Regions from separate parts of the Homo sapiens genome. Here regions 1 and 3 are each linked to region 2. The links come from fine-mapping of genetic effects on gene expression. A gene starts in region 2. Each other region holds a variant in brackets. All regions are shown on one strand. Distances are between the middles of the regions.

Region 1 (8,832 bases), 32 kb before region 2:
TTTCACCCTACCTTGATAATACTGAGTCCATGGATATAGAAGCTGCGGCCAACACACCTCATTTCTGTTGCAGTCATACTCTGTATAATTGATCTGGAATCTAGAAAACATTTTAGAGGGTTACAAAAACTACAAGTGAGAAGTATCAGAACTTGATTAAAGGAATAAACTTCCAATTTTCAAATATATATTTTTCTGCTTCCTAATGTCAACTAGGTGAGCAACTGGAGTACCTTGTCAGGGGGTGGGGTAACTGTGCAGGAATTTTAATAAACTGGACGGATGCACTGATAGGGAGAAGGTCGGCCTTGTGCTCACAGGTAAGCCCACACTGGTACTGCCAGTTCACTGAGGAGAACCTAGGAGGGAAAGATCACATGGTCAGCATAGCCACCATTCAGTTCTATTCCACCAAGAACAGCAGGTAACGGATGCAATCACAATATAACCTGAGGTTCTCCTAAGAAGTTTCGCATTCTACCTGGGCTGTTTTTTCTCAGTATTTGTCCATGGTCTTTGACCATTTCCACAGACAGATCCAAAGAGAAGAGAAACTCCTAATAACCCCTCATGGGCCTGTCGCCCAGCAACATCTGCCAGTCTTGTTGTCAGTCTCACTCCTCTCCAGCCAGTGCATTGTATACAGGTGCTATCAAAGGTACCTTTGTTCATCACCTGTTTTTCTCAAACAATATAATAATAAAAGCAGCAGCTAGCCACTTATTGAGGGCTTTCCACGTTCGAGGCACAGAGATAACTTGCTTGCAACACACCATCTCATGTTATCCTCAGAAGAGTACTGCGGAGGTGGTAACTGCACTCCCATTTTCCCTTGCAGAGCCACCACTCTCCATTTCCAGTTCAGTGGAGCAGAAGGAATTGGCCCTAATCCAGAGGTGCACCCATCACCTGAGCCTAGCCAATAAGAGCTGTCCATTGCCCCAGTCATAGGGATTGGTTCAGAAAGGAGCACATGACCTAAACTGAACCAATAAAAGTCTGCCCAGATCTATTTTGAGAAAGAGGAGGGGCCGGGCACGGTGACTCATGCCTGTAATCCCAGCACTTTGGGAGGCTGAGGCAGGCAGATCACCTCAGGTTGGGAGTTCAAGACCAGCCTGACCAACATGGAGAAACCCCATCTCTACTAAAAATACAAAATTAGCCAGGCGAGGTGCCACATGCTTGTAACCTCAGCTACTTAGGAGGCTGAGGCAGGAGAATCGCTTGAACCCGGTTGGTGGAGGTTGCAGTGAGCCAAGATGGCACCACTGCACTCCAGCCTGGGCAACAAGAGCAAAACTCCGTCTCAAAAAAAAAAAAAAGAAAGAAAGAAAGGAAAGAGGAGGAAAGGGGCTTTCTCCCCACTGGACTTGCTGCAGTGACATAAGCCTGGATTGCTGGTGCTGATCTTTGCCATCTCTTGAGGAGAACCTCCCTGAGAATGAAGCCAACCCAAAGGAAGAGGAGCTGAGATACGAAAACAAAAAGATCCCTGACCACACTGGAACCATGAACCATGAACTAGCTGTATGTGGATTACTCTGAACTTGAACCAATAAACTCCCCTTTTTGCTTAAGTCAGTATGAACTGGGCGCCTGTCACTTAAAACCGATGGAGGCAGGCTGGGCGCGGTGGCTCATGCCTGTAATCCCAGCACTTTGGGAGGCCGAGGCGGGCGGATCATGAGGTCAGGAGATTGAGACCATCCTGGCCAACAGGGTGAAACCCTGTCTTTACTAAAAATACAAAAATTAGCTGGACATGGTGGCACGTGCCTGTAATCCCAGCTACTCGGGAGGCTGAAGCAGGAGAATCGCTTGAACTAGAGAGTTGGAGGTTGCAGTGAGTCAAGATATTGCCACTGCACTCCAGCCTGGAGACGGAGCAAGACTCTGTCTCAAAAAAAAAAAAAAAAAAAACTGATGGAGGCTTGATACATAAAGGTATTATCACCATATTACAGAGGAGGAAACTACAGCTCAGAAAGGTTAAGTAATTGGCCAGTGTCACACAGCTCCTAAGTAGGACAGCCATGATTTGAACCTATCTGCTGCCAAAGTCTCTAACCACAGACAATATTCTCTGATCAGATTATCAGTTACATCCATGGATTTCAAAATATACTTAGTACTAAGGGGCCCTTTATTCATCTTTGTACTCCCTAAAATAACTTGCAGACTCTCTTACATATGGCTTTATAAATACTTGTGAGAATAAGTCTCCATTATACACATAGTTCGTACATATTCCATATGTGCATATAAACATCTTGCTAATAATTGCAAGTTGTAAATAAACAATCAGTTTCTAAATAAACATTTCCCTATTGTTTGGGATGCTCTCAACTTTCCTGACTCTCTCTAAACTACGGTGATCCAAGATGTGATCATACCTTGTCTCTACACCGAGTATCTCCTGCTGAGTAATCCCTTCCACCGCGCCAGCATCCGAGATGAGGATGCGGATGCTCAGGTGAGCAGGAATATCCAGGCACATGCCGTTCACACTGCTAGCCAGCGGGTCTGCACCTGGATCAGGGGCATCTACACCTATAGAAATGTTAAGTTATACACTTTTCAAAGAATAATTTGATAAGTTTTCCTACAATGTCGTAATAACCAAAATGGGGAATAATATCAGGCAGGCATCACATTAATGAGGCTTTAGTCTCTTACAGGCTCTAGTTACTTGTCACTCCATAACTGTGTTATCCCTTAAAGTCTACAAGGCATAGGATGGCACTAATAAAAATTGTGTTTAAAATGTTTCCTTGTATGGGCCGGGTGCGGTGGCTAACGCCGTAATCCCAGCACTTTGGGAGGCTGAGGCGGGCAGATCACGAGGTCAAGAGATCGAGACCATTCTGGCCAACATGGTGAAACCCCATCTCTACTAAAAGTATAAAAATTAGCTGGGCGTGGTGGTGCTCGCCTGTAGTCCCAGTTACTTGGGAGGCTGAGGCAGGAGAATGGCGTGAACCTGGGAGGCGGAGCTTGCCGTGAGCCAAGATCACACCACTGCACTGCAGCCTGGCGACAGAGGGAGACTCTGTCTCAAAAAAAAAAAAAAAAAAAAAGTTTCCTTGTATGTTAGCCAGTCACTGGAACTTAAAAGCCCTGACCCACATATTAAAGCCATAAATCATGATTCAGTTTCCAAGCTCCCACTGAAATCTACCCAGCCTTTTAACAGAAACATATATAATTGCAGTGAAATGCCATCGTTATTCCATGCAGTCACAGTTCTAGTAAAAGCTGTGTAAGACATTTAAAATCCATACTAACAACTTTAGGCCAGGCACAGTGGCTCATGCCTATAATCCTAGCACTTTGGGAGGTCAAGGTAGAAGCACTGCTTGAGCCCAGGAGTTTGAGACCAGCCTGGGCAACATAGCAAAACCCTGTCTCCTCGAGAAAAATAAAATAGCCAGTCATGGTGGCACACACCTGTAGCACACACCAGCTACCCAGAAGGCTGAGGTGAGAGGATTGCTTCAGCCTGGGAAGTCAAGGCTGCAGTAAGCCGTGATGGCATGGCACCACTACATTCCAGCCTGGACAAAAGTGAGAACCTCATCTCAAAAAATAAAAATAAAAATCAGTCGGGCGTGGTGGCTCACGCCTGTAATCCCAACACTTTGGGAGGCTGAGGTGGGTGGATGACCTGAGGTCAGGAGTTCGAGACCAGCCTGGCCAACATGGTG[A/G]AACCCTGTCTCTACTAAAAATACAAAAATTGGCCAGGTATGGTGGCGCACACCTGTAATCCCAGCTACTTGGGAGGCTGAGGCAGGAGAATCACTTGAAACCTGGGAGGTGGAGGTTGCAGTGAGCCGAGATCATGCCACTGCACTCCAGCAACAAAGTGAGACTCCATCTCAAAAAAAAAATAATGATAATAATTGAAAAAAAAATAATAATAAAACAAAATCCACACTAACGACTTTAATTAGTATGTATTAGATAGGTAAGTAATTTCCTAATGTGTTACCATAGTATTAATACAATTGGAAGAGAATGAAATTGAATGAGAAATGAATTTGCATTCGTCTTGGAGAAAACCCAGCAAGGTCAATTGGAGGAAGTAGGGTAGGTTCTATGGCTCCTCTGAAGGGGGTTCTTTGCTCCTTCAGGGATTCCGAAGGTCAGTAACACTGTTTTATGTCTAATTTCCTTATACATGTGTCAACACCACTTCTCTTCTGCTTATTAACCAGGATCAAGGTTGCTTTTTGGCTCAGACATGAAATAAAAGCTAACCCCTTCCACCTTGAAGGCAACAAAATGTCATCACCACACTGATTTCGTACCTCATCAACCTGGGTTCTCCGTCTGGACATTTTCCCTACCGTTTATTTCCCAACTGCTGACTTTTCTCCAGCCCTCAGGGTCATTCCACAGCCTATCTAGCTGGCCTGGGTGGCAGAGCCCAGGGCTTGACAAGCTCGACCTCTGGGTTCCGTTTGCAAATGAGGATCTAGGTCTGGGCCCAGTGCCTTGAGCACCAGCTAGATGAGCAAACAGCAGCCTGAGTGCCCCGTGGGGGTGGAGTCCAACAGGACTCCCTCCCCAAGTCAGAGAGTGGTCTGGGGCACCTCAAGCTCACAGACATATCACATTATCCATGACCAAGAGGGGGAAGGGAGGGTCCTCATCACCATGACCCCAATCACAAGGAGTAGGCACAATACAGGTGTGTGTCTGTATGGGCCGTTGTGTGAATTCCAGCCTACTGAGCCTAGCTGACCTCAGAGGAGATGGAAAGGGTAGGGACAGGATCCAGAGGGCTGATCCCTACCCACCAGGCAGAGGAGAGGGGCAGAGCAGCATCTGCAGGGAGAGCTGGGCAGGGGCAAAGCAGATGCGCACACTCATTGGGCTCTTTCTGGTCCCAAAAGGCAATTCCATTAATTAGCTCAATAAAAAAAGCTTTCCATTCAAAGTATTTACAGACTCAAGGCTCCCCAAGAAACCGGGAAGTTACCTAACTTGCTACCAGGGAACAGAGGAAAGAGGTTGGAACCCCAGGTTTTCATTCTAGCTCTGCCAAAACTCACTGTGACCTTAGGCCTCTCCAACATAACCCGATGAGCTGGATCTCCATGACTCAAAGGATATTTTGGATTCAGAGGTGAAATCAGGCCTGATGAAGAAGCTTTAAAGTCTGGTTTACCTTTATTCCATGTACATGTGGTATATCTTTTTCCCTTTGTGTACGAGCTACTTGCCAATTCAACACTGCAAATACCTTTGGCCAGAGGCACTGAGCTGTCAAGTCTTTCTATCTGGCCCCCATGATCCCTGCTATTATTAGATCTGTTGCACCCTTTTTTTTTTTTTGTGAGACGGAGTCTTGCTCTGTCGCCCAGGCTGGAGTGCAGTGGCGCAATCTCGGCTCACAGCAAGCTCCGCCTCCCGGGTTCCTACCATTCTCCTGCCTCAGCCTCCCGAGTAGCTGGGACTACAGGCGCCCACCACCACGCCCGGCTAATTTTTTTTTTTTATTTTTAGTAGAGACGGGGTTTCACCTGTGTTAGGCAGGATGCTCTCGATCTCCTGACCTCGTGATCCACCCGCCTCGGCCTCCCAAAGTGCTGGGATTACAGATATGAGCCACCGTGCCCAGCCGATCTGTTGCACCTTAATTACTTTCTTTCCTGACAGCTTTATTGAGATATAATTCACATACTATACAATCCACCTACTTAAAGTGTGCAATTCGATGGTTTCTGGTATAGTCACAAAGCTGTGACTATCAGCAGATTCTATTTTAGAACATTTTATCACTCTGCGAAGAAATCCTTTACCCACGGCAGTCTCTCCCCATTTCCTCCCAACTCCTCCACCTCCGGCATCCACTAATCTGCTGTCTCTATACATTGCCCATTCTGGACATTGCATATAAATTGAGTCATACAATATGTGGTCTTTTGTGTCTGGCTTCTATCACAATATTTTCAATCACTTTATTTTCTTTTAAGTTAACAAAATTACCTTTATAAATTACAAAGTCAATTCTCAAATGCCTGTATTCCTGGCAATCAAAAACAGCAATGCAAACTGAAGTGCACTAACAATCTTCAAACCTTGCTTGGACTTTGTTTTAATGTATTTTATTTTATTTTGTTTTATTTTTAGAGTCAGGATCTTGCTCTGTCATCCAGGTTGGAGTGTGATGGTGTAATCAGAGCTCACTGTAGCCTCAAACTCCTAGGCTCCAGCGATCCTCTTTCCTCAGCATCCCAAGTAGCTGGGACTGCAGGGACATGCCACCACATTCGACTAATTTTTTAAATTTTTCATAGAGACAAGGTCTCACTATGTTGCCCAGGCTGGTCTTAAACTCCTGGCCTCGGCCTGGCACGGTGGCTAACGCCTATAATCCCAGCACTTTGGGAGGCCGAGGCAGGTGGATCACGGGGTCAGGAGTTCGAGACCAGCCTGGCCAACATGGTGAAACCCCGTCTCTATTTAAAAAATACAAAAATTAGCCAGGTGGTGGTGGGCGCCTGTAATCCCAGCTACTTGGGAGGCTAAGGCAGGAGAATCACCTGAACCTAGGAGGCAGAGGTTGCAGTGAGCCGAGATTGTGCCATTGCACTCCAGCATGGGTGACAAGAGCAAGACTCCGTCTCAAAAAAAACCAACCAAACAAACAAAAAAACTGGCCTCAAGCAATCCTCTTGCATTGACCTCCCAAAGTGCTGGGATTATAAGTGTGAGCCACTGCTCCCAGCCTAGACTTTCTTTCACAAAGACTGTTGTTGGCCAGGCGCAATGGCTCATGCCTGTAATCCCAACATGGTTGGGGTTTAAGAGGTTGGGGTGGGCAGATCACTTAAGCCCAGGAGTTAATGACCAGCCTGGGCAACATGGCGAAACCCATTTCTACAAATAATAAAAAAATTAGCCAGATGTGGTGGCGCACACCTGTGGTTCCAGCTACTTGGAAGGCTGAGGCGGGAGGATCCCTTGAGCCTGGGAGGATGAGGAGGCAATGAGCTGTGATTGCACCACTGCACTCCAGCCTGGGTGACAGAATGAAACCCTGTCTCAAAAAAACAAAAACAGAAAATCAAAAAAGTCATTGTGAATAAGAAGAAAAAGACATGCCAAGTTTCCTGCCTGGAGATCTAACCCCTGGGCAAACGTCCAGTTAAGCCGCAGTCAAGCCTCAGGAAGATGACCTACTGGGTTGGGCTCTAATGCTGCGACTACAGTTGGTAGTCACAGCAACCAAGTTACAGGCTTTATTGTACCCGGGTTTGACTTACGTATTATTTCGAGCCAGCCATCACTAAGATCAGCGTAATCGGAGTTGCCTCTCATTGCAACGTGAGTCGCTTGTATTAATGAATCAAGTCTTTCAACAGCATTCTCCCTGCAAGAGAGTAAGACATTTCTCAGCTCATGGCCAGCAGGTCTTGTCCTAAAGTCATTTCCAGTGAATGTCCGGGTTTCACTTCCGAGTGCCTAAATTAAAAACTGCCAGAGGAACTGGCATTAAAAACTGGCTGGGTGTCACCCATGGACTAGGTGTGTCTGATGGCCTTCCCAGGATGGACCCACACACCTGGGGGAGAACATACAGAAGCAATCTTTTACTTTAGACTTAAAATGTTAGTAACTTGGCCGGGTGCAGTGGCTCACACCTGTAATCCCAACCCTTTGGGAGGCTGAGGTGGGAGGATTGCTTGAGCTCAGGAGTTCAAGACCAGCCTGGGCAACAGGGCAAAACCCTGCCTCTACAAAAAATACAAAAATTAGCCAGGCATGGTGGTATGCACCTATAGTTCCAACTACTTGGGAGGCTGAGGTGGGAGGAGCGCATAAGCCTGGTGGGGTTAAGGCTACAGTGAGCTGAGATCGTACCACTGCACTCCAGCCTGGGTGACAGAGCAAGATCCTGTCTCAAAAAAAAAAAAAAAATGTTAGTAACTTAAGTTGGGAATCACATGGTTCACAAACTCTGCCGACTGTCACCAAACTTAGGAGGTAGTTAGAGCACACATCAAGTTAGCAGGATACATTCGTGGGCCAGAGTGATCCAACAGTAAAAGTAACCTATATATCTAGCTGGAATTTTGAGTCATAAAATTAAGTGAAGACTAAGAGTTGGAACGTAGCATTCCCTCCTTCCCAGTACTGTCACTGGAGGGTACAAATCTCATGAACTGCAGGAGAGGGACTCTGCCCATGGACTCAGGCCTCAAAACCTATAATCAGGAGCTGCTGCCAATAATTTATACCAGTTTTCCTTAACTTCTCAATGTTACCCCCATTTCTTCCTGCTTCCCAAAGAACTACACATCTTGGGATATGTAACAGATAAAACGTGTGTAAGAGTGCATGCAGGCCGGGCATAATGGTTCATGCTTGTAACCCCAGCACTTTGGGAGGCCAAGGCAGGAGGATCGTTTGAGCCCAGCAGTTTGAGAGCAGCCTGAGCAACACGGTGAAACCCCATCTCTACAAAAAATACGAAAAATCAGCCAGGCACACACCTGTACTCCAAGATACTCGGGAGGGTGAAGTGGGAGGATCACCTGAGCTCAAGAGGGTCAGGCTGCAACGAGCCGTGATCACACCACTGCGCTCCAGTCTGGGTGATGGAGTGAGACCTTGTCTCAAAAAACAAGCCAAAAAGAACGCATGCAATCAAAACCACAATGAGATACCACTTAGTATCTATTAGGATGGCTACTGTCAAAAAAAAAAACAAAAACAAAAAAACAAAAAACAAGGCTGGGCACAGTGGCTCACACCTGTAATCCCAGCACTTTAGGAGGCTGAGGAGGGCAGATCACCTGAGGTCAGGAGTTCAAGACCAGC
Region 2 (11,366 bases):
TGGCTCACTGCAAGCTCCACCTCCCGAGTTCACGCCATTCTCCTGCCTCAGCCTCTCGAGTAGCTGGGACTCCAGGCACCCGCCACCATACCCGGCTAATTTTTTGTATTTTTAGTAGAGACGGGGTTTCACCGTGTTAGCCAGAATGGTCTCGATCTCCTGACCTCGTGATCCGCCCACCTCAGCCTCCCAAAGTGCTGGGATTACAGGCGTGAGCCACCGCGCCCGGTCTTTTTTTAGAGACAAGGTCTTGCTCTGTCGACCAGGCTGGAGTACATGGAGCAATCCTGGCTCACTGCAGCCTCCACCTCCTGGGCTCAAGCGATCCCCCGACCTCAGCCTCCCTCATAGCTGGGGCTACAGGCACCGACTACCACGCACAGCTAATTGTAGTATTTGTTTGTAGAGACAGGGTTTTGCCATGTTGCCCAGGCTGGTCTTGAACTCCTAGGCTCAAGTGGCCCACTCACCTCAGCCTCTAAAAGTGTTGGGATTACAGGCATGAGCCACCACCTGGCCTCAAGCATATTTCTCAAAGGAAAAAAGTCAGTGCTTTGAATGGTACAGCTATCATGAATCCCTTCTGTTGTTTTGGGGGGATTTTTTTTTTCATCATTGAATACGGTTTTTTTGGCTTTGTTTTGAATTTTAAGCCATAGAAAAATTTAAAACTTTTAAGTGGGTAACACATTTGCATGGTTCCAAAAAATCAAAAGCATATTAAAAAATTCCTCACTGTCAGCCCTTTCCTGTTCCCACATCATCCTCCAACTTGGTAGCACATTATTAGCTTCTCCAACATCCTTCCAGAATTTCTTTATGCAAATGTTTTCATTTCTGCCTCCTTTATGCAAAAGATAGCACACTGTAGGCAGCCATCTGCACTTGCTTTTTTCACTTCATTCATCATGGAGGCCTTTCCATGCAAGTACACTGAGGGCACAGTAGTCTGCTGAAAGGAGCTGTCAAAACTTGTCTTATCATCCTAAACTTCCAGAAGCACCAGGAGGACCACAGTTAGGGATGTAATAAGGGAAGCGGCAGTAAAGGAGTCTCCAGGTAACAGACTTTTGCTACTAAAGTCTGGAACGCTTCTCCCTCCATGCCACGTGGCCATAAAGGCAAGAGATGTCAGAGTTCGCCACCGGAGACAGGGGACATGGCAGTAGCACTCATCACTGCAGAGCCCTCTACATCGGCACATCTAGTTGAAAGCTCTTTTGGTTTAAGAACACTAACATCATGTGAGACGGAGATGAACACAAAACCATTTTCTCATGTCCAAAGATTCATGTACACGGGCATAACGATCTTTGCTGTAGCATCAAAAGCTGGGAACAGACCAGGTGCAGTGGCTCCTGCCTGTAATCCCAGTACTTCAGGAAGCCATGGTGGGAGGATCACCTGGGCCCAGGAGTTCAAAACCAGCCTGGCTAACATAGTGAGACCCTGTCTCTACAAAAAATGTAAAAACTAGCCAGGTGTGGTGGTGCACGCCAGTAGCCCCAGCTACTATGGAGGCTGTGGCAGGAGGATCGCCTGAACCAGGAAGGTTGAGGCTGCAGCAAGCCAGGATCGTGCCCCTGCACTCTAGCTCCAGCCTGGGTAACAGAGTGAGACCGTGTCTCTAAAAAAAATGAAAATAAAAATAAATTTTAAAAAAAGCTGGAAATGATGTAAACTTCATCAGCCTCAAACTCCTACGCTCAAGCGATCCTCCCACCTCAGCCTCCCTAGTAGCTAGGGCTACAGGCAGGCACCATCATGCCCAGCTTTTTAAAATTTTTTATAGAGACAGTATCTGCTGTGTTGCCCAGGTTGGTCTCGAACTCCTGGGCTCAAGAAATTCCCCCGCCTTGGCCTCCCAAAGCACTTACAGTGTGGGAGCCACTGCGTCTGGCCACCCTTCCTTTTTTCTTCTTAAGATGCAGTCATGACAATCAATGCACGTGCCGAGCACAGTGGCTCACGCCTGTAATCCCAGCACTTTGGGAGGCCGAGGCAGGCGGATCACAAGGTCAGGAGATCAAGACCATCCCAGCCAACATGGTGAAACCCCATCTCTACTAAAAGTACAAAATTAGCTGGGCGTGGTAGCGTGAGCCTGTAGTCCCAGCTACTCGGGAGGCTGAGGCAGGAGAATCGCTTAAGCCCAGGAAGTGGAGGTTGCAGTGAGCCGAGATCACAACACTGCACTCCAGCCTGGTGACAGACTTAGACTCCATCTCAAAAAAAAAAGAGAGAGAATCAATGTACATAAACAAATTTCACCTTCTCCCAAAAAGGATTCAAGGTAGCTTATAAAGATGCAAACAGTAGAGAAAGATCAAATAAATGTTAAATAAAATAGTACAAAATGAAATTTCTTAAAAGAAAACTAAACAAAAGAAAAATAAGTTTAGAAAAGCAAGACAGACTCAAGTGAAGTATACTTTACAAATTGCATGGCATACACTTATAATCAAACAGGTAAGCTTGACACAAATTTTTCTTTTTTTGTTTTTGTTTTTGGTTTTTTTTGAGACAGGGTCCCACTCTGTCACCCTGGCTGGAACGCAGTGGCGCGATCACAGCTCATTTGTAGCATTAACCTCCCGGGCAGCTCATTTATAGCATCAACCTCCCGGGCTCAAGCAATCCTCCTACCTCTTCCTCCTAAGTAGCTGGGAACAACATGAAAGTTTTGACAGTCAAAGACTTCACTTGCCTGAGGCATTATGGGTCAGAGAAGAGTTGGCATAAATTTCCACTTGAATGAGTAGATGTGCTGAACAGGATGAATTATGAGATGCTGAAACCAGAAGGGTCTGGAGGATACAGGGGGACTCTGAGAAGGAATCTGTCTCATTGGAGGAACACCAGTCCAGACCTCTCTTCCACCTCACTGTCACTTCCAACACCTTCTGAAAGGAAAACATTGCTGTATTTTTAAAGTGACTCAAAACAGGGTCTATAAGAATACATAATGGAAAACACAATAAAAGTACACATCAGCCTCCGTTCATTTTATAAAAGGGAAATGTATACAGAGATGACACAGTTATCTTCAGTTCCCCCCCATAAACCTATGGTAACATGCAAGCCCTGATTCTTCTTCCTTAACATAAAAGCAAACAACTTCGGGATACTTAGAGAAAGCTAAACACAGATCTGATAAATAAACTCAGTTTATTGTACACCTTTTTAGTTTCTTTATCATCCTATCAGTGGAAGAGTAAATACACAAAAAAAGTCAATGAAAACAATCCTCAGTTTATCCCAGAATGACTTTAGACATGTACATGTTCACTCCTGGGGTACAAGCAGAGCTTGTCTTTCCTGTCCTTTTCTCTCCAGAATTGATGTTGCATATACTAGGTATCCAATAAACACTTATTAAATAGAAGATGCTTAATCTCTCCAGGTTTGAGTATCCTTACACATAAGCTCAGAGTTGGGCAAGATCAGTGGTTATGAAGCTTTTTTTTTTGAGACGGAGTCTCGCTCATCACCCAAGCTGGAGTGCAGTGGCGTGATCTCGGCTCACTGCAATCTCTGCCTCCCGGGTTCAAGTGATTCTCCTGCCTCAGCCTCCAAAGTAGCTGAGATTACAGGCACCCGCCATCACGCCCAGCTAATTTTTGTATTTTTAGTAGAGATGGGTTTCACCATGTTGGCCAGACTGGTCTTGAACTCCTGACCTCAGATGATCCGCCCTCCTCGGCCTCCCAAAGTGCTAGGATTACAGGCGTGAGCCACCGCGCCTGACCAGCTTTTTCTTTTTTTTTAAGAGACAGGGTCTTGCTCTGTTGCCCAGGCTGGATGAAGTGCAGTGGTGCGATCATAGCTCTCTGCAGCCCTGAACTCCTGGGCTCAAATAATCCTCTTGCCTCAGCTACCCCACCCCCCTCCAAGTATCTGGGACTGTAGGTGTACGCCACCCACCTAATTTTTTTTTTAATTGTTTTGTAGAGACGAGGTCTCGCTATGTTACAGGCTGGTCTGGAACTCCTGGGCTCAAGCAATCCTCCCGCCTCAATCTCCCAAAGCGCTATGAGTACAGGCGTGAGCCACGATGCCTGGCATAAAGCTTTTTTGAATCACTGACCCATTTGATGATCTAAAGGAAACTGGTGACCCTCTCATCAGAAAAATGCACATACACACAGAACTTTACATACAATTTCATAGAGTTCACAGACCCACTGAAATACATCCAAGGACTCCTAACCCCAGGGTAAGGAACCCGTGGGCTGGATAAGTGTCTACCAGATCCAACAGCCCACAATTTCATGATTGTTGAGAGCATGGAGAAAGCCATGCCTTGTTAAATAAAGAGAGCACTGCAGAAACCCTAGCTGGGGGCCTCTTCACAGGCTACAGAGAAGGTTTACTTCTGGCCTTACCGCACCGGGGATCACAGTCACGCTCCAGTCTTCCGTCTCATTGTTCAGCACTCCACACGTCGGAATTGGCAATATTCCTAAAGAAAGAAGACCAGCATGCAAAGGCAGCAAGGTCCAGCAGCTCAGGGGGTGCATTGAGTCAGACTGCCTAGGATGGACTCACATTACAGCCTAAGATTGGGCCCTTTACAAGCTGCTTGACACTGGGACAGTGACAACCTCTCTGAACTTGTTTCTTCCTTGGTCAAAGGGGATGAAAAGATATTACTGTTCTTACTAGGAAAATGGGATGATGCACGATGTTAGCTCAATGAATGCTAACCATTATTATTTCAGGCTTTCTTCGAACCTGTCCGTCTGTCCTCTTTGGCCTACAGCAGCCGCCCGATCCTTTTCTCCCCATGCGACTTTGCAGAGAACAGAGGCAGGGGGCCCCAAGGATGCCACCTCTCCAGGCTCCTTGGGAGGTCTGGATCCAGTCCAACCCCCACCCTCCCCAAAAGAGGGCCGGACTTTACCCGCCTCGTCCTGCAGCACTGCCAGGGACACGGTCACACCCTCGGTGTCTCCGACCAGGGACGCGCTGACCGCAGGGCCGGACATTCGGATAAAAGGAGGGATGAAAGCTAGGCGGGAAGGAAAGGGGACAAGGAGGGGTTAGCAGTGGAAGAATCACCGCCTAAGGTGTGTGTGGCGGCTTGCTTTGGCGTTGTCGACTCCCGAAGCTCCCGGGGGAGTCCAAGTCTGGCCCTTTTAACGCCCAGTCCCCTCAGCCCCGGCCCACCGAGGTCACTGCCGCGCCGTACACACCCAGGTCCCCCCACAGAAGCCTCAGGATGCCCTGCAGAAGGAAAAGCCTCAAAAGAAGAGCGGCCGGAGGCTGGAAGCCCATGCCTTAGACCTCGCGGGCCGGGCACAGCAGAACCGCGCCCTCATTAGAACCCAGGAAGGACTCAGACACGAAAACGCAGCAGCCACTGCCCCGCCGCCGCCATCTTGCAAGCGAACGCCCGGAGCTATGGCAACCACCAATCGGCGGCCGGCCAGGAGGAACGCCGCGCTGTGATTGGACCAGTGGCAAGAGCGGGCACCCCGGCCCCGCCCACAAGGCCTAGCATTTTTGCTGCTTGACTCTGGTGGGGAGAGTGAGGGCTGAAAAACTACCTATCCGGTGCTCCACTTAGTACCTGGGTGACGAAACAATCTGTGCACCCAACCCCCGTGACACGCAATTTACCTATATAGCAACCTGTACATGGACCCCTGGGCCTAAAAGTTGAAAACATCAAAATTAAAAAGGTCCTGAAAAGCAGGAGTGCGTGTCCGGCTCAAAAACTGGAGTTTTCCCCTACCCTGGAATTAATCCAACAATAGCCAAGAGCGATCCTATAGACACTGGCTTCTAAATAAAAAGGGTGGGACTTGCTCCTTAATAAACTTGATTTTTATACGGATTTGTTTTAGGGGTGAGTAGAAAAAGGGGATGGGGCTGCCGCGCTGTGTTTATTATCTTTACTATCGTTTATGATGTATTATTTATATTTTATATTTTTATAAAATAAATATATATTTACAAAATAGATATACTTTGTTTTATATATATATATCAGATATACATACTTGATATATATAAAATACATATAGGCCGGGTCTGGCGGCTCATGCCTGTAATCCCAGCAATTTGGGAGGCCGAGGCGGGCGGATCACAATGTCAGGAGTCTGAGACCAGCCTGATCAACATGGTGAAACCCCGTCTCTACTAAAAATACAAAAAATTAGCCAGGCGTGGTGGCAGGCGCCTATTATCCCAGCTACTCAGGAGGCTGAGGCAGGAGAATTGTATGAATCTGGGAGGCGGAGGTTGCAGTGAGCCGCGATTGCACCACTGCACTCAAACCTGGGCGACAGAGCCAGACTCCGTCTCAAAAATATATTTATTTATTTATTTATCTTATAAAATATATATGTATTTATATTTTATCTTATATATATTTATCTTTTATATAAGTATATATTTTGTAAATTTTATACTTATATGTTATAATTTTATAAAATTTATATTTTTATAATTCTTATCATTATCATTTATTATCACTATTGCTTTTATTATCATTCTCCTAGGTTTTTGAAGGATTTTCTCCCCTGCACAGAGCTCTCAGCACTCTGAAAGCAGATCCAATCACAGAACACACAAGAGGTTTTGCCCAGCAATAGGACAGATGTGAAAGAATCAAAATTCTGTCTGGAAAAAAATTGTTTTTTCTTATATCAGTAGCCTCAGAACATTTCAAATATTGTCACGGCTTGGGGACTGAGAGTGCAGGGTCTGAGGTCAGGCTGCCTGGCATGGGATTTCGCCTTCCCTCCACAGATATTCTCAGCTGTTAAGTGACTTTGGGCAAGTCAACCTCTCTAAGTTTCAGCTTCCTCATCTATAAAAAAGGGATGATAATAATCCTTCCTTGGGGATTGTGTGAGGATGAAATGAGGTAACATATCTAATGAGGTTAAACCAATGGCTGGCATACAGTAAGCACTCAGTTAATGATCAGTTACTTGTTAACTATCAGAGAGGTGGTGTATCCTTTAGCTGAGACAATCATGGTGTTCAGCATTGTGGCTGACTGACGGTAAATGCCAAGTAAATGTTTGCCATTATTAGTCTTTTTTTTTTTTCTTTTTGAGACAGGGTCTCACTCTGTCACCCAGGCTGGAATGGTGCAGTGGCACAATCATAGCTCACTGCATCCTCAAACTTCTGGGCTCAGCTGATCCTCCCACCTCAGCCTCCCAAGTAACTGGCAATACACCACCACACCCGGCTAATTTTTGTATTTTTTATAGAGACGGGGTTTCACCATGTGGCCCAGGCTGGTCTCAAACTCCTGGGCTCAAGTGATCCTCCTGCCTTGGCCTCTAAAAGTGCTGGGATTACAGGTATGGGCCACCGTACCCAGCCCCATTATTACTCTTAATGTTCAGTTATATATTCATTGATCAGCAAATCTAACATTGTGAAAGGATTCTGAAAGTTGAGGCTTTATAAGGGCCTGACACTGGGTGTTATCTTTTTCTTATACTCCCTGAAAAACTGTGGGTCACTACAGTTGTAACATGAGCATGAAACTTTTCCCGTGTACCTCAGCTCCTCTCTGGAAGACTGCAAAATGTTTACCTCTCTTGATATCTTGGAATGAAGCCTAGGAGAACGTTACTAAGAGGAAGCTGTCAAACACTTAAATATTTCTGTTATTCCCCATCTGTCTTTGGGGGGAATTAATCTGCAAATTAAGTTGGCAAGGCCAAGCGGTAAAGATTAAGAGATAAATCCTCCCAAAAGAAAACATTTCTGGGCCGGGCTTGGTGGCTTATGCCTGTAATCCCTGCACTTTGGGTGGCAAAGGCACATGGATCACTTGAGGCCAGGAGTTCAAGACCAACCTGGGCAACACAGAGAAACCCATCTCTACCCAAAAATACAAAAATTATCTGGGCGTGGTGGCGCATGCCCGTACTCCCAGCTACTCGGGAGGCTGAGGCAGGAGAATCGCTTGAACCCAGGGGTCGGATGTTGCAGTGAGCCGAGATCGCGCTACTGCACTCCAGCCTGGGCAACAGAGTGAGACTTCATCTCAAAAAAAAAGATAGAAAACACTTGAAGCTGGTGATCAGCAGCTTCCCGATAAGATCTCAGGAGTTGGGCAAGCAGGCTCATGCATACATAGTAAGAGGCAAGATGGCAGATTTTAACTGGTATATAACCTTCCTCTGGGAAGGCTCGACTGGTAAAGGAAAATGCCTCAAATGAGCATGCGCACAACTTCAGTAAACACACTGCACATGCGGCCCCTCCCAAGTGCTGGCAGGCCACTGACATGCAGACAGCCCACCCCAAGGAAAAATCAAGGGAGGGCACAAACCTCAGAACCATGCTAATGTATAGAAACCCCCAGTGAAGGGTCGGACGGGGCACTTGAATCTCTCAAGTCGCCCGCTTGGCCCTCTTCCAAGTGTACTTTACTTCCTTTCATTCCTGCTCTAAAACTTTTTAATAAACGTTTACCCCTGCTTTAAACTTTGCCTTGGTCTCTCACTCTGCCTTATGCTGCTTGGCCAAATTCTTTCCTCTGAGGAGGCAAGAATCGAGTTGCTGCAGACCTGTACAGACTCGTCACTGCTAACGGTGATCCAGGGAATTCTCCAAGATCGTACCCAAGATCACCAAGGTGGCACCTCTACAAATATGTAAACTATTCATATCTTGAGTAGTAGACTAAAAGGCAAACCTATCAAAAATAATAACTACAGCTTTTTAAGACATAGTATAATAAGATATAAATATTGTAGAAACAAAAAGTTAAAAATCAGAGGGATGAAGTTAGAGTATTAGTTTTCTCTGCTTGTTTTTGCAATCAGAGTTGTCATCAGTTTAAAATAATGGGTTATAAGATGGTATTTGCAAGCCTCATGCTAAACTCATATCAAAAAGCCTACAACAGATACACAAAAATATAAAGCAAGAAATTAAAACATACCACCAGAGAAAATCACTTTCATAAAAAGGAAGATGGAAGGAAGGGAGGAAGGGAAGATCAGAAAACAAATTTAAAAATGGCAGTAGTAAGTCCTTACTTATAAATAATAACATTGAATGTAAATGGACTAAACTCTCCAATCAAAAGACATAGAGTGGCTGAATAGATTTAAAAAAAAAAGACCTAATGATTAGCTGCCTATAAAAACTCTTCACCTATAAAGACACACATAGACTAAAAATAAAGGGATGGAAAAAGATATTCTAATGGAAACCAAAAAAGAGCAAAAGTAGCTATATACTTATATCAGATAAAATAGATTTTAAGACTAGGTGTGATGGCTCATGCCTGTAATCCCAACACTTTGGGAGGCCGAGGCAAGAGGAACCCAGGAGTTGCTTGAGCCCAGGAGTTCAAGACCAGCCTGGACAATACAGCAAGATGCTATCTCCACAGAAAAAGAAAAAAAAGAGGCCAGGCGCAGTGGCTCACACCTGCAATCCGAGCACTTCGGGAGGCCAAGGTGAGTGGATCATCTGAGGTCAGGAGTTCAAGACAAGCCTAGCCAACATGGCGAAAACCCATCTCTATTAAAAATACAAATATTAGGCTGGGCTCGGTGGCTCATGCCTGTAATCCCAGCACTTTGGGAGGCCGAGGTGGGAGGATCACGAGGTCAGGAAACTGAGACCATCCTGGCTAACATGGTGAAACCTCATCTTTACTAAAAATACAAAAAAATTAGCTGGGCATGGTGGCAGGTGCCTGTAGTCCCAGCTACTTGGGAGGCTGAGGCAGGAGAATGGCGTGAACCCGGGAGGCAGAGCTTGCAGTGAGCTGAGAACACACCACTGCACTCCAGCCTGGGCGACAGAGCGAGACTCTGCCTAAAAAAAAAAAAAAAAAAAAATTAGCTGGTCGTGGTGGCAGGTGCCTGTAATTGCAGCTACTCGGGAGACTGAGGTGGGAGAATCACTTGAACCCGGGAGGTGGAGGTTGCAATGAGCTGAGATCATGCCACTGCACTCCATCCTGGGTGACAGAGTGAGACTCTGTCTCAAAAAAAAAAAAAAAAAGTGGTAAAGAAGGTCATTATATAATAAGAGGCTCAGCAAGAGAATATAACTATTGTAAACATATATGCAGCCAATACTGAAGCATTCAGATATATAAAGCAAATATTATTAGGGCTAAAGAAAGAGATAGACCCCAGTACAATAACAGTTGGAGACTTCAACCTCCCACTTTCAGCATTGGACAGATTATCCAGACAGAAAATCAACAAGGAAACATCAGACCTAATTTGCACTATAGACCAAATGGACCTAATAGATATTTATGGAACATTTCATCTAATGGCTATAGAATACATTCTTCTAAGCACATGAATCATCGTCAAGAATAGATCATATGTTAGGTCACAAGTCTTTACAAAAAAAAAATAATAATAAGAACAAGCATCTCTCTCTTTTTTTTTTTTCTTGAGATGGAGTCTCACTCTTGTCCCCCAGGCTGGAGTCCAATGGCACGGTCTTGGCTCACTGCAACCTCCGCCTCCCAGGTTCAAGCGACTCTCCTGCCTCAGCCTCCTGAGTAGCTAGGATTACAGGTGTGCACCACCACGCCCAGCTAATCTTTATATTTTTAGTAGAGACAGGGTTTCACCATGTTGGGCAGGCTGGTCTTGAACTCCTGACCTCAGGTGATCCACCCACCCGGTTTCCCAAAGTGCAGGGATTACAGGCATGAGCCACCATGCCCAGCCCCAGATCAAGCATCTTCTCTGATCACAATGGAATAAAATCAGAAATCAATAACAAGAGGAACTTTGGAAAGTATACAAACACAAGGAAATTAAACAGCATGCTGCTGAATGATCAGTAGGTCAATGAAGAAATTAAGAGTTGGATTTTTTTTTTTTTTTTTTTTGAGACAGAGTCTTGCTCTGTCACCAGGCTGGAGTGCAGTGACACGATCTCAGCTCACTGCAACCTCCGCCTCCCGGGTTCAAGCAATTCTCCTGCCTCAGCCTCCTGAGTAGCTGGGACTACAGGTACCCGCTACCACGCCCAGCTAATTTTTTGTATTTTTACTAGAGATGGGGTTTCACCATGTTGGCCAGGATGGTCTCATTTTCTTGACCTTGTGATCCGCCCACCTCGACCTCCCGAAGTGCTGGGATTATAGGCACGAGCCACTGCGCCCGGCCATTAAGAGGGAAAATTTAAAAACTCCTTGAAACACACGAAAATGGAAAAACATACCAAAACCTATGGAATACAGCAAAAGCAGTACTAAGAGGAGACCTTATAGCAGTAAGTACCTTTATCAAAAAAGTAGAAAAACTTCAAATAAACAACCTAATGATGCTTCTTAAAGAACTAGAAAAGAGTAAACCAAATCCAAAGTTAATATTAGAAAAGAAATAATATGGTGGCTCACGTCT
Region 3 (11,366 bases), 110 kb after region 2:
GTCTGAGCTACTAGAGAGGCTGAGGCGGGAGGATTGCTTGAGCTGGGGAGCTCAAGGCTGCAGTGACGCGTGATCATGCCACTGCACTCCAGCCTGGGTGATAGAATGAGACCCTGTCTCCAAAAAAAAAAAAAGAAAAGAAAAAAATTAGATCCAGTTACAGATACATATAACATGAAATTAAGATGTGTGGATGTGCGACACATCAAAGAAATGACTTTCTGTTAAAACTCTGCAGGTGACAGGAAACATCAGCACTGGCTGGGAGCGGTGACTCATGCCTGTAATCCTGGCACTTTGGGAGGCCAAGGCAGGCAGATTGCATGAGTCCCAGAGTTCGTGATCAGCCTCGGCAACACAGTGAAACCCTGTCTCTATGAAAAGAAGAAAGAAGAAAAAAAGAAAAGAAGAAGAAGGAGGAGGAGGAGGAGAAGAAGAAGGAAAAGAAATCACATTTCTTCACCCATGTAATTGGCAAGAACTTAAATCTCTAATAATATCCAGTGATGGGAACGGGGGAAACAGGTACTTTCATACCCAATTGGTGGGGGAATGCATTAGAAATCATTTTGGAGGCTTTTAGATAATATCTATTAAGATTTTAACCAGCAAGTTCCATTATTCTAGGAATCTATTACAAAGAAATACAGTAAAATATGCCCAAAGGTATATGGGCAGGAAGGTTCATAGCAGCATTTTTTTTTTTTTCCAAGATGGAGTTTCACTCTTGTCACCCAGGCTGGAGTGCAATGGCGTGATCTCGGCTCACTGCAACGTCCGCCTCCCGGGTTCAAGCGATTCTCCTGCCTCAGCCTCCAGAGTAGCTGGGATTACAGGCATGTGTCACCATGCCTGGCTAATTTTTGTATTAATAGTAGAGATGGGGTTTTACCACATTGGCCAGGCTGGTCTCCAACTCCTGACCTCAGGTGATCCACCTGCCTTGGCATCCCAAAGTGTTGGGATTACAGGCGTGAGCCACCGCCCCCACACAGCATTTTTTTTTTTAAGAGACAGAGTCTCACTCTGTCACCCGGCTGGAGTGCAGTGGTGAAATCATAGTCCACTGCAGCCTCGAAATCCTGGGCTCAAGCAATCCTCCACCCTGGCTTCCCAAAGTGCTAGGATTATAGGAATGAGCTACTTACACCTGGCCCATAGCAGCATTTTTTATGACAACTAAAAAAATGGAAACAATTAAATTACCATCAATTGGAATCTGATTAAATTAACCTACTCTACTCTACTCTACTCTACTCTACTCTACTCTACTCTACTCTATTCTATTCTATTCTATTCTATTCCATTCCATTCTATTCTAGCAAGGTTTTGCCATGTTGCCCAGGCTGGTCTTGAACTCCTGAGCTCAAGCAATCCACCTGCTTCAGCCTCCCAAAGTGCTAGGACTACAGGTATGAGCCATGCCCAGCCTAAATTAACACTTTTAACACTAAAATGCAATACAGTGTAACTGTGGTAGTCACAAGATAATTATGGGATTTCTGGAAAATGTTAATTCATGGGCAGTATGGTCTGGTAAGGGAACACAGATTTAAAGGTAACATCACTACTTTCTTTCAATGTCAACAGTGGGGAGTCTGTAACTGTCTGTAACAGTGAAAGGTCTAAATGTGAGACATTTACTGAAGGTAAAGGAAGGTTCGCAGGATCCCCAGGCCTCTGGGATGGGCTCGGAGTCGGGAAGTAACGAACACAGACTGAATGGTGTAATCCAGATAGAAAATGCTACAGGAGGGCGAGGCCCGGGGGCTTATGCCTGTAATCCCAGCACTTTGGGAGGCCAAGGCAGGCGAATCACCTGAGATCAGGAGTTCAAGACCAGCCTGGTAGCCGGGCATGGTGTGTGCGTCTGTAATCCCAGCTGCTCAGGAGGCTGAGGCACGAGAATCACTTGAACTTGGGAGGCAGAGGTTGCGGTGAGCCAAGATCACACCACTGCACTCCAGCCTGGGCAACAAGAGCAAGACAACGTCCCAAAAAAAAAAAAAAGAAAAAGAGAGAGACAGAGAGAATGCTACAGGAGTATTGAAGGGAGGGCACTCTTTATTATTATTAATAATAATATTATTATTATTAATTTTTTTGAGACAGGGTCTCACTCTGTTGCCCAGGCTGGAGTTCAGTGCCATGATCACAGCTCACTGCAGCTTCAACCTCCCAGGCTCAAGCTATCCTCCCACCTCAGCCTCCTGAGTAGCTGGGATTATGGGTGCAAGCCATCATGCCCAGATAATTTTCTATTTTTGTGTGTGTGGAGATAGGATGTCCCTACGTTGCCTAGGCTGGTCTTGACCTCCTGGGCTCAAGTGATCCTCCCGCCTCCATCTCCCAAAGTGTTAAGATTACAGGTGCAAGCCACTTCACCCAGGCAAGGGGGTTATTCCTTTATTTATTTATTTTTTTTAACGGAGTCTCACTCTGTCACTGAGGCTGGCTTGCAGTGGCTCCAGTGATCTCAGCTCACCACAACCTACGCCTCCCGGGTTCAAGCAAGTCTTCTGCCTCAGCCTCCTGAGTAGCTGGAATTACAGGCATGTGCCACCACGCTCGGCTAATTTTTGTATTTTTAATAGAGATGGGGTTTTGCCATATTAGCCAGGCTGGTCTCGAACTCCTGACCTTGTGATCTGCCTGCCTTGGCCTCCCAAAGTGCTGGGATTACAGGTGTGAGCCACCACATCCAGCCTGGTTTTTTTTTTTTTTTTTTTTTTGAGACGGAGTCTCTCTCTGTTGCCCAGGCTGAAGTGCAGTGCCACCATCTTGGTTCACTGCAACCTCTGGAAGGGGGCATTCTTGATTATTGGATCCACGGGAGAGAATATTAGTGAAGAGGGAGAAACAATACTTAAAGAAAGATTTAGGAAATTAAAGTGAAAAGAAAAGGATAGTCCAGAACGTGAAGATAAAATTGAAGTATAATAAGAAAAGATTTCTTTTTCTTTTTTTTTTTTTCCTGAGACAGAGTCTCACTCTGTCACCCAGACTGGAGTGCAGTGGCGCCATCTCAACTCACTGCAACCTCCGCCTCCTGGGTTCAAGTGATTCTCTGGCCTCAGCCTCCCAGGTAGCTGGGATTACAGGCATGCGCCAACATGTCCAGCTAATTTTTTTTTAATTTTTTTTTATTTTGTTGAGATGACGTCTCCCTCTGTTGCCCAAGCTGGAGTGCAGTGGCACCATCTTGGCTCACTGCAACCTCCTGGGCTCAGGAGATCCTTCCATCTCAGCCTCTCAAGTTGCTGGGACCACAGGCGTGCAGCATCACATCCAGCTAATTTTTTTTTCTTTTTTTTTTTTTGTATTTTTAGTAGAGACGGGGTTTCACCATGTTGCCCAGGCTGGTCTCAAATTCCTGACCTCAAATGATCCACCCGCCTTGGCCTCCCAAAGTGCTAGGATTACAGGCATGAACCAACACACCCAGCCAGATTAACTGCATTTTAAGAAATACATGTGTATGGCCAGGCATGGTGGCTCATGCCTGTAATCCCAGCACTTTGGGAGGCCGAGGTGGGTGGATCACTTGAGGTCAGGAGTTCGAGACCAGCCTGGCCAACATGGAGAAACTCTGTCTCTACTAAAAATACAAAAATTAACCAGGTGCGGTTGCAGGCACCTGTAATCCCAGCCACTTGGGAGGCTGAGGCAGGAGAATCGCCCGGGAGGTGGAGGCTGCAGTGAGCTGAGATCACACTACGGCACTCCAGCCTGGGAGACAGAGCAAGACTCCACCTCAAAACAACAACAACAAAAACAAAAAATACAGGTGTGTAACCAGAATTCCAATCAAGATAGAATCATTTCCTTCACTCTAGAAAAGCTTCCTTGTGCCTCCTTGCAGTCAGTCCCCACTCCCACCTCCTACCAGGCAACCACTACTCTGCTTTCAATCCCTTGAACTTAGTTTTGCCTGTTCAGAAATTTCATACAAAAGGAGCCATACAGTGTGGACTCCTTTGTGCCTGATTAATTTCTCACAATGTTATAGCTGTGAGAGTCATTCCTACTGTTGCATTGGGAATTGCTTGTTACTTTTCATTGCTGCATAACATTTCGCTGTAAGAATTTATTTATCCATTCTATTGCTGATGGACATTCCCCTTATTTCCTGTTTTGGATGATTTTGAGCAAAGTTGTTGTGCGCATTATTTTCTGATTTCTGCTGGGTTTAAACCTAGCAACAGAATTGCAGGGTGATAGGGGAGGTGTATGCTTAGACTTAGTAGATACTGCCAGTGTCAACCTAAGTAACAGAGAGGCTTAATTTTTTTTTTTTTTTTTTTTGAGACGGAGTCTTGCTCTGTAGCCCAGGCTGGAGTACAGTGGTGCGATCTCGGCTCACTGCAAGCTCTGCCTCCCAGGTTAACGCCATTCTCCTGCCTCAGCCTCCCGAGTAGCTGCGATTACAGGCGCCCACCACCACACCCTGCTAATTTTTTGTATTTTTAGTAGAGACGGGGTTTCACTGTGTTAGCCAGGATGGTCTCGATCTCCGTGACAGAGAGTCTTTCTAAAAGAAGATGATATTTATTCAGGAATAGGACGTTGCAATGGGAATATGTGTGCCATACTAAAGTGTATGTGTATTCAAGGAAATAAAGGAAGACAAAGGTTTTTAAAGGAAAAATGAGGAGAACTACATAATTGTTTTGAGATAATTATCTTTGGCTACAAAGATCAATAATAAAAGTGCACCAGTCCAAGTTTAGATAGGCAGTTGCTGGGCAGATGTCTTCGAACGAGTATTTTTAATGTAAGATTGTGATGGCCTTTGTGCAAGGTTGTGGGTTTTGCAGGCTTTTGTGATAGTTTTTGTTATCTGGCATTCGTGCATGAGAATCCTCCCTTCATCAGCTTCCCTGGCTCTGCTCGTCAAGGTGATTTTGGTTTTTGTTTTGTAACACAGATGACTCCATTTTGATTCTGACAACTTTCACACCAGTTTTCCAAAGTGGTTTGACCAATTGCACTCCTACTAGCATTGTATGAGGGTACTGACATTGACAAGTTGGAAAACTGAAAAAGGGCTAGTGTGGGGCCAGTCACGATGGCTCACGCCTACAATCCCAGCATCTCGGGAGGCCGAGGTGGGCGAATCACCTGAGGTCAGGAGTTCAAGACCAGCCTGGCCAACATGGCGAAACCCCATAGCTACTAAAAATACAAAAATTGGCCAGGTGTGGTGGCGCATGCCTGTAATCCCAGCTACTCGGGAGGCTGAGGCAGGAGAATCACTTGAACCCAGGAGGTGGAGGTTGCAATGGG[C/T]CCAGATCGTGCCACTGCACTCCAGCCTGGGAGACAGAGCGAGAGTCCATCTCAAAAAAAAATTTTTTTAAACAAAGATGCGCCAGGCGCAGTGGCTCACGCCTGTAATCCCAGCACTTTGGGAGGCCGAGGCAGGCGGATCACGAGGTCAGGAGATCAAGACCATCCTGGCTAACACGGTGAAACCCCGTCTCTACTAAAAATACAAAAAATTAGCCGAGCGTGGTAGTGGGCGCCTGTAGTCCCAGCTACTCGGGAGGCTGAGACAAGAGAATGGCGGGAACCCGGGAGGCAGAGCTTGCAGAGAGCCGAGATCGCGCCACTGCACTCCAGCCTGGGTGACAGAGGGAGACTCCGTTTCAAAAAAAAAACAACAAAGATGCATGGCTGCGGGTGGGGCCCCCAGCATGCTCTGGGCTTTCGTCTCAGCGGCGGTGAGCTGTTGCCTTTAGCCTTTCTCCCCTGTGGCCAATTTATAGGCAGGAACCAAAGCACTGGGCAGATGAGTAGGTAACATGTTTTGGCCACTTTTCATGAAGTTGAGGGGACCAAAAATTAAGTGTAAACTTGCAATGCAACATTGTTTAAAATAGTCCAAACCAGAAAACAGAGTGAATGACCACCAAGGGAACAATGATCAAGCAAATTGCAGTACATACATAAAACAAAAGACTGCACAATCATTTAAAAGAATGATGAAGTGGGCAGATCACCTGAGGTCAAGAGTTTGAGACCAGCCTGGACAACATGGTGAAACCCCATCTCTAATAAAATACAAAATTAGGCCAGGCATGGTGGCTCATGCTTGTAATTCCAGCACTTTGGGAGGCCGAGGCAGGTGGATCACCTGAGGTAGGGAGTTCGAGATCAGCCTGGGCAATATGGTGAAACCCCGTTAGCTGGGCGCGGTGGCGGGAGCCTGTAATCCCAGCTACTCGGGAGGCTGAGGCAGGAGAATCGCTTGAACCCGGGAGGCAGAGGTTGCAGTGGGCCGAGATCGCGCCACTGCACTCCAGCGTGGGTGACAGAGCAAGACTCCATCTCAAAAAAAAAAAAAAAAATTAGCTGCCTGTGGTGGCACCTGCCTGTAGTCCCAGCTACTTGGGAGGCCGAGGCACAAGAATCACTTGAACCTATGAGGCAGAGGTTGCAGTGAGCCAAGATTGCACCACTACACTCCAGCCTGGGCAACAAGAGTGAAACTCTGTCTCAAAATAAAAAAAAATAAAAAATAAAAGAATGAAACAGGAATTATCTATTTTTAAAAAATAAGGTAGATCTATATGTGCTGAGCTGGAAAAATGATTATAGGGTATTATTAAGTGAAAAAAGCAAACTGCTTTTTTTGTATGTTTGTATGTCGTGTTTCCATTTTAAAACTAAGTGTATGTTTAGACATACAGTGTGTACAGATATGCAAATATTTATATTATCAGGAAAAGCATGGACCAAACTGTCAACAGTAGTTACCTAGGAGTAGAAATTAGATGGGAGGGATTTCTTTTAAATACATTATTTTTTCTCTGTTTTCACTCCAGCCTGTGTCTCCCAAGCTGGAGTACAGTAGCACAATCACAGCTCAGTGCAGCCTCGATTTCCTGGGCTCAAGCGATCCTCCTGCCTCAGCCTCCCAAGTAGCTGGGATTACAGGTGCACACCACCATGCCCAGCTAATTTTTGTATCTTTTGTAGAGACGGGGTCTCACAATATTGCTCAGGCTGGTCTCAAACTCCTGGGCTCAGGTGATTCTCCCGCCTTGGCCTCCCAAAGTGCTGGAATTACAGGCGCGAGCCACCATGCCTTTCTTTTTGTTTTTAGACAGGGTCTCCCTCTGTCACCCAGGCTGGAGTGCAGTGGCCTGATTACAGCTCACTGCAGCCTCAAACTCCTGGGTTCAAGTGTTCCTCTCACCTCAGCCTCTAGAGTAGCTGGGACTACTGGTGTGCACCACCACACCCAGCTTAAATACATAATTTTTCTCATGTTGGATTATGGAAATGGCAAATCCGAATCCATTCATCCCACCTGTGCCCCCCACCCCCAGAAATCACATACTTACCTTTCTCTCTGGCGCAGACAGCATCAGCGACGGCTCACACTGTTCCATGGTTATAAAGCTCTGCCCAGTGCCACAGTCATTTCAGCTCCTAACATTTCCGATTGTCTCTGAAGGTCAGGGGCAAAGAATTGCAGCCACCTCTGCATCCAAGACCGACACCCCCCAAGAGGGGCTCCACCTGCAAATGGGGGGAGGCTAATGCCCCAGGGGGAAAACAAATGAGGACGTGAAGGAGCTGGCGGATAAATTGTTCACCTCCCTCCCCATACCCACCACACACTTCCCATTGCTACACTCTGCACTAACAGAACATTCTGAGATTCACTGCTTTCCTACATCCTCTCCAGAGACACCCCAGAAGACCAGCAACTGGCTGAGTGCTGGTGTGAAGTTGGGGCTGCCTCTGGGATGCTCTGTCATGAACTTACACTACCTCCTTTTTTTTTTTTTTTTTTTTGAGACGGAGTCTCTCTCTGTTGCCCAGGCTGGAGTGCAGTGATGTGATCTCAGCTCACTGCAACCTCTGACTCCCAGGTTCAAGGGATTCTCCTGCCTCAGCCTCCCAAGTAAGTGGGACTACAGGCGCCCACCACCACACCCGGCTAATTGTTTTTATTTTTAGTAGAGACAAGGTTTCACCATGTTGGTCAGGATGGTCTCGATCTCCTGACCTCGTGATCCATCTGCCTTAGCCTCCCAAAGTGCTGGGATTACAGGCATGAGCCACCGCGCCCGGCCTGCTCCCCCTCCTTTTGTGCCTCCTTCCCTTTCTCCCTCACCCTCACCTCCCTGGCATTCTCCTCTCCAATAAAGCATTAGCTCCTAATCTTCACCTCAGGCCCTGTTTTCTAGGGAACCAAAACAAAGCCATGGGTGATTTCTACTTTTTAAATATTTCTCTTTAAATGTTTTTTCTTGGCCAGGTGCAATGGCTCACACCCAGCACTTTTGGAGGCCGAGGCGGGCAGATCACTTGAGGTCAGGAGTTCGAGACCAGCCTGGCCAACATGGTGAAACCCCGTCTCTAAGAAAAATACAAAAATTAGCCAGGCGTGGTGGTGGGCAACTGTAATCCCAGCTACTTGGGAGGCTGAGGCAGAAGAAACGCTTGAACTCAGGAGGCAGAGGTTATAGTGAGCGGAGATCACGTGCCACTGTACTCCAGCCTAGGCAACAGAGCGAGACTCTGTCTCAAAAAATAAGTATATATTTATCTATTTATTTACTTACTTATTTTATATATATTTATATATATTTATATTTTTCTTTATATATTTTATATATATATTTATTTACTTATTTATTTATATATAAAAATATATATATATATTTATTTACTAACTTACTTACTTAGTCTCTCTCTGTCGCCCAGGCTGGAGTGCAGTGGCTCAAACTCGACTCACTGCATCCTCTGCCTCCAAGGTTCAAGCAATTGTCCTCCCTCAGCCTCCCAAGTAGCGGAAACTACAGGCGCCCACCACCATGTCTGGCTAATTTTTGTATCTTTAATAGAGACGGGGTTTCGCCATGCTGGCCAGGGTGGTCTTGAACTCCTGACCTCAAGTGATCTGCCCACCTCGGCCTCCCAAAATGCTGGGATTGCAGGCGTGAGCCACTGCACCTGGCCAATATTTGTTTAAATTAAGAACTCAACCATTGGCCTGGCGTGGTGGCTCACGCCTGTAATCCCAGCAGTTTGGCAGGTTGAGGCGGATAGCTCACTTGAACTCACAAGTTCGATACCGGCCTGGGCAAAATGGTGAAACCCCGTCTCTCCTAAAAATACAAAAATTATCTGGGTGTGGTAGCATGAGCCTGTAGTCCCAGCTACTCAGGAGGCTGAGGTGAGGAGGATGGATTGAGCCCAAGAAGTGGTTGCAGTGAGAAAAAATCAGACCGCTGCACCACTGCACTTCCGCCTGAGTGACAGAGCCAGACCCTGTCTTAAAAAAGAAAAGAAGAACTCAACCATTAAGGGATGAGATTCTTGAAGCACAGAAGCACAGGTTGCATTAACCAGGTTAATGCAACTGTTATGGAAAAATCTACACAAATGTAGCATTAGCATTTACTGGTAATCTCTCTTCAGAAAGAAGCAGACATTGAAATTCAGCAAGTGTGCCCAATGCAGGTAAAATCCAGTTGCTAAGTTTCTTGTTTCCCAAGATGGGTTTTGGGGAGTCTGATCATATCTCTCATACAGTGTCCTTGGGGATGGGGTCTGGCAACTAAGGAGAAGGCAGTGCAGAACAGACCGTGAGTGCTAAATGACATTTCTGGTGCTTAAAGATGCCGTGATGGCCGAGTGCGGTTGCTCACGCTTGTAATCCCAGCACTTTGGGAGGCTAAGGCAGAAGGATTGCTTGAGCCCTGGAGTTCCAGACCAGTCTGGGCAACATAGTGAGACCCTGTCCCTATGAAAAATTTTTAAAAATTAAAAAACAATGCAGCCAGGCATGGTGGCTCACGCCTGAATCCCAGCATCTTAGGAGGCCAAGGCGGGTGGATCACTTGAGGTTAGGAGTTCGAGACCAGCCTGGCCAACATGGTGAAACCCCATCTCTACTAAAAATACAAAAATTAGCTGGGCATGGTGGTGCGTGCCAGTAATCCCAGCTGCTCGGGAGGCTGAGGCAGGAGAAGCACTTGAACCCCAGAGGTGGAGGTTGCAGTGAGCTGAGATTGTGCCACTGCACTCCAGCCTAGGTGACAGAGTGAGACTCTGTCTGAAAAAAAACAAAAAACAAAAAAACACAATGCAATGAGGACATCAAAATTAGTCATGACCCCCCCAAGACTGTCAAAGTGAAGGAGGAAAAGGAGGAGGAGATGGAAGAGAATAAACGAAGAGCCGCAGCAGCAACTGTGGAAAGTCACGAAGAAGTGTGTGGGTGGGCAGCTATTTCAGATTGCCAGGCCTTGTAATCTAGCCCTGGGACAGGACAGGTAAGGCAGGTGGCCTGATGACTGCTCAGACTCCTGAGAAATGTTGGTGCTCATGAGAGTCCCCTGGCCAGGCGCGGTAGCTCCTGCCGGTAATCCCAGCACTTTGGGAAGCCGAAGCAGGAGGATCGCTTGACCCCAGGAGTTTGAGCCCAACCTGGGCAACAAAGCGAGACCCTGTCTCTACAAAAAATCTAAAAATTAGTTGGGTGTGGTGGCACGTGCCTGTAGTCCCAGCTACTCAGGAGGCTGAGGCAGGAGGATCGCTTGAACCCAGGACTTTGAAGCTGCAGAGTCATGATCACCACCACACCCCAGCCTGGGAGACAGAGTAAGACCCTGTCTCAAATAAATAAATAAATAAATAAATAAATAAATAAATTTTAAACAAAAAAGGAGGCTAGGCACAGTGGCTCACTCCTGTAATCCAAGCACTTTGGGAGGCTGAGGCGGGCAGACCACTTGAGGCCAGGAGTTCAAGATCAGCCTGGCCAACATGGTGAAACCCCATCTCCACTAAAAATACAAAAATTAGGCAGGCATGGTGGCACATGCCTGTAGTCCCAGCTACTTGGGAGGCTGAGGCAGGGAGAATCGGTTGAACCCGGGGGGTGGAGGCTGCAGTGAGCTAAGATCGTGCCACTGCACTCCAGCCAGGGCAGCAGAGCGAGACTCCATCTCAAAAAAATAAAAATAAAACAACAGGAAGAAAGAGTCCATTGGCCACAGCACAGGCAAGCTACACTCAAGTACCTGCCGTCGTCTTTCTATTCCTAATGTGGTTTCTCAGGCCCCTGTGGCCTGATTTTCCAGGAAGCAGTGACTTCTCCTTCCACAGAATCACTGCTTCTCTCTGCCACATGCCCTGCCCTAGTGCCTCACAGAGGGAGGAACCATCTGTCATCTGTCCACAGCTCTTCCTCCTGCCCCTAACCATGGTGGTCCCCTGCATCTAGCCCTGAGATCCCCAGTGCTGTCCCTTAGAGCTCATTTTTTTTCTCCAAATCTGTTGGAGAAATCAACAGATCTCTGTTGGTGGCATCAAATCTTCTCTCTCTTTTCTTTCTTAATCTTTCT

What was found. PIP is the estimated chance that this variant, and not a neighbour inherited with it, causes the effect. A credible set is the group of variants that fine-mapping cannot tell apart.
Region 1: its variant is the best candidate, but not a certain one, in a credible set for the expression of TCTN2 in whole blood (INTERVAL, PIP 0.67).
Region 3: its variant is the best candidate, but not a certain one, in a credible set for the expression of TCTN2 in whole blood (TOPMed, PIP 0.68).

What each region holds. Positions count from the first base shown.
Region 1 is chr12:123,698,253-123,707,084 of GRCh38, reverse strand. TCTN2 (tectonic family member 2) reads right to left here. Exons shown (of 18, transcript NM_024809.5): 14 at 7,275-7,381; 15 at 2,397-2,553; 16 at 234-359; 17 at 12-100. Among named protein-coding and RNA genes, the nearest start is that of ATP6V0A2, 9.7 kb to the left of the region's middle. RefSeq lists a silencer at 7,301-7,476. The variant A/G (reference allele first, on the strand shown) is at 3,708.
Region 2 is chr12:123,665,152-123,676,517 of GRCh38, reverse strand. It overlaps TCTN2 (tectonic family member 2), which reads right to left and starts at 5,405. Exons shown (of 18, transcript NM_024809.5): 1 at 5,196-5,405; 2 at 4,904-5,011; 3 at 4,386-4,462; 4 at 2,708-2,903. The coding sequence starts at 5,277.
Region 3 is chr12:123,559,437-123,570,802 of GRCh38, reverse strand. No RefSeq gene overlaps it. Among named protein-coding and RNA genes, the nearest start is that of TMED2-DT, 19 kb to the left of the region's middle. The variant C/T (reference allele first, on the strand shown) is at 5,287.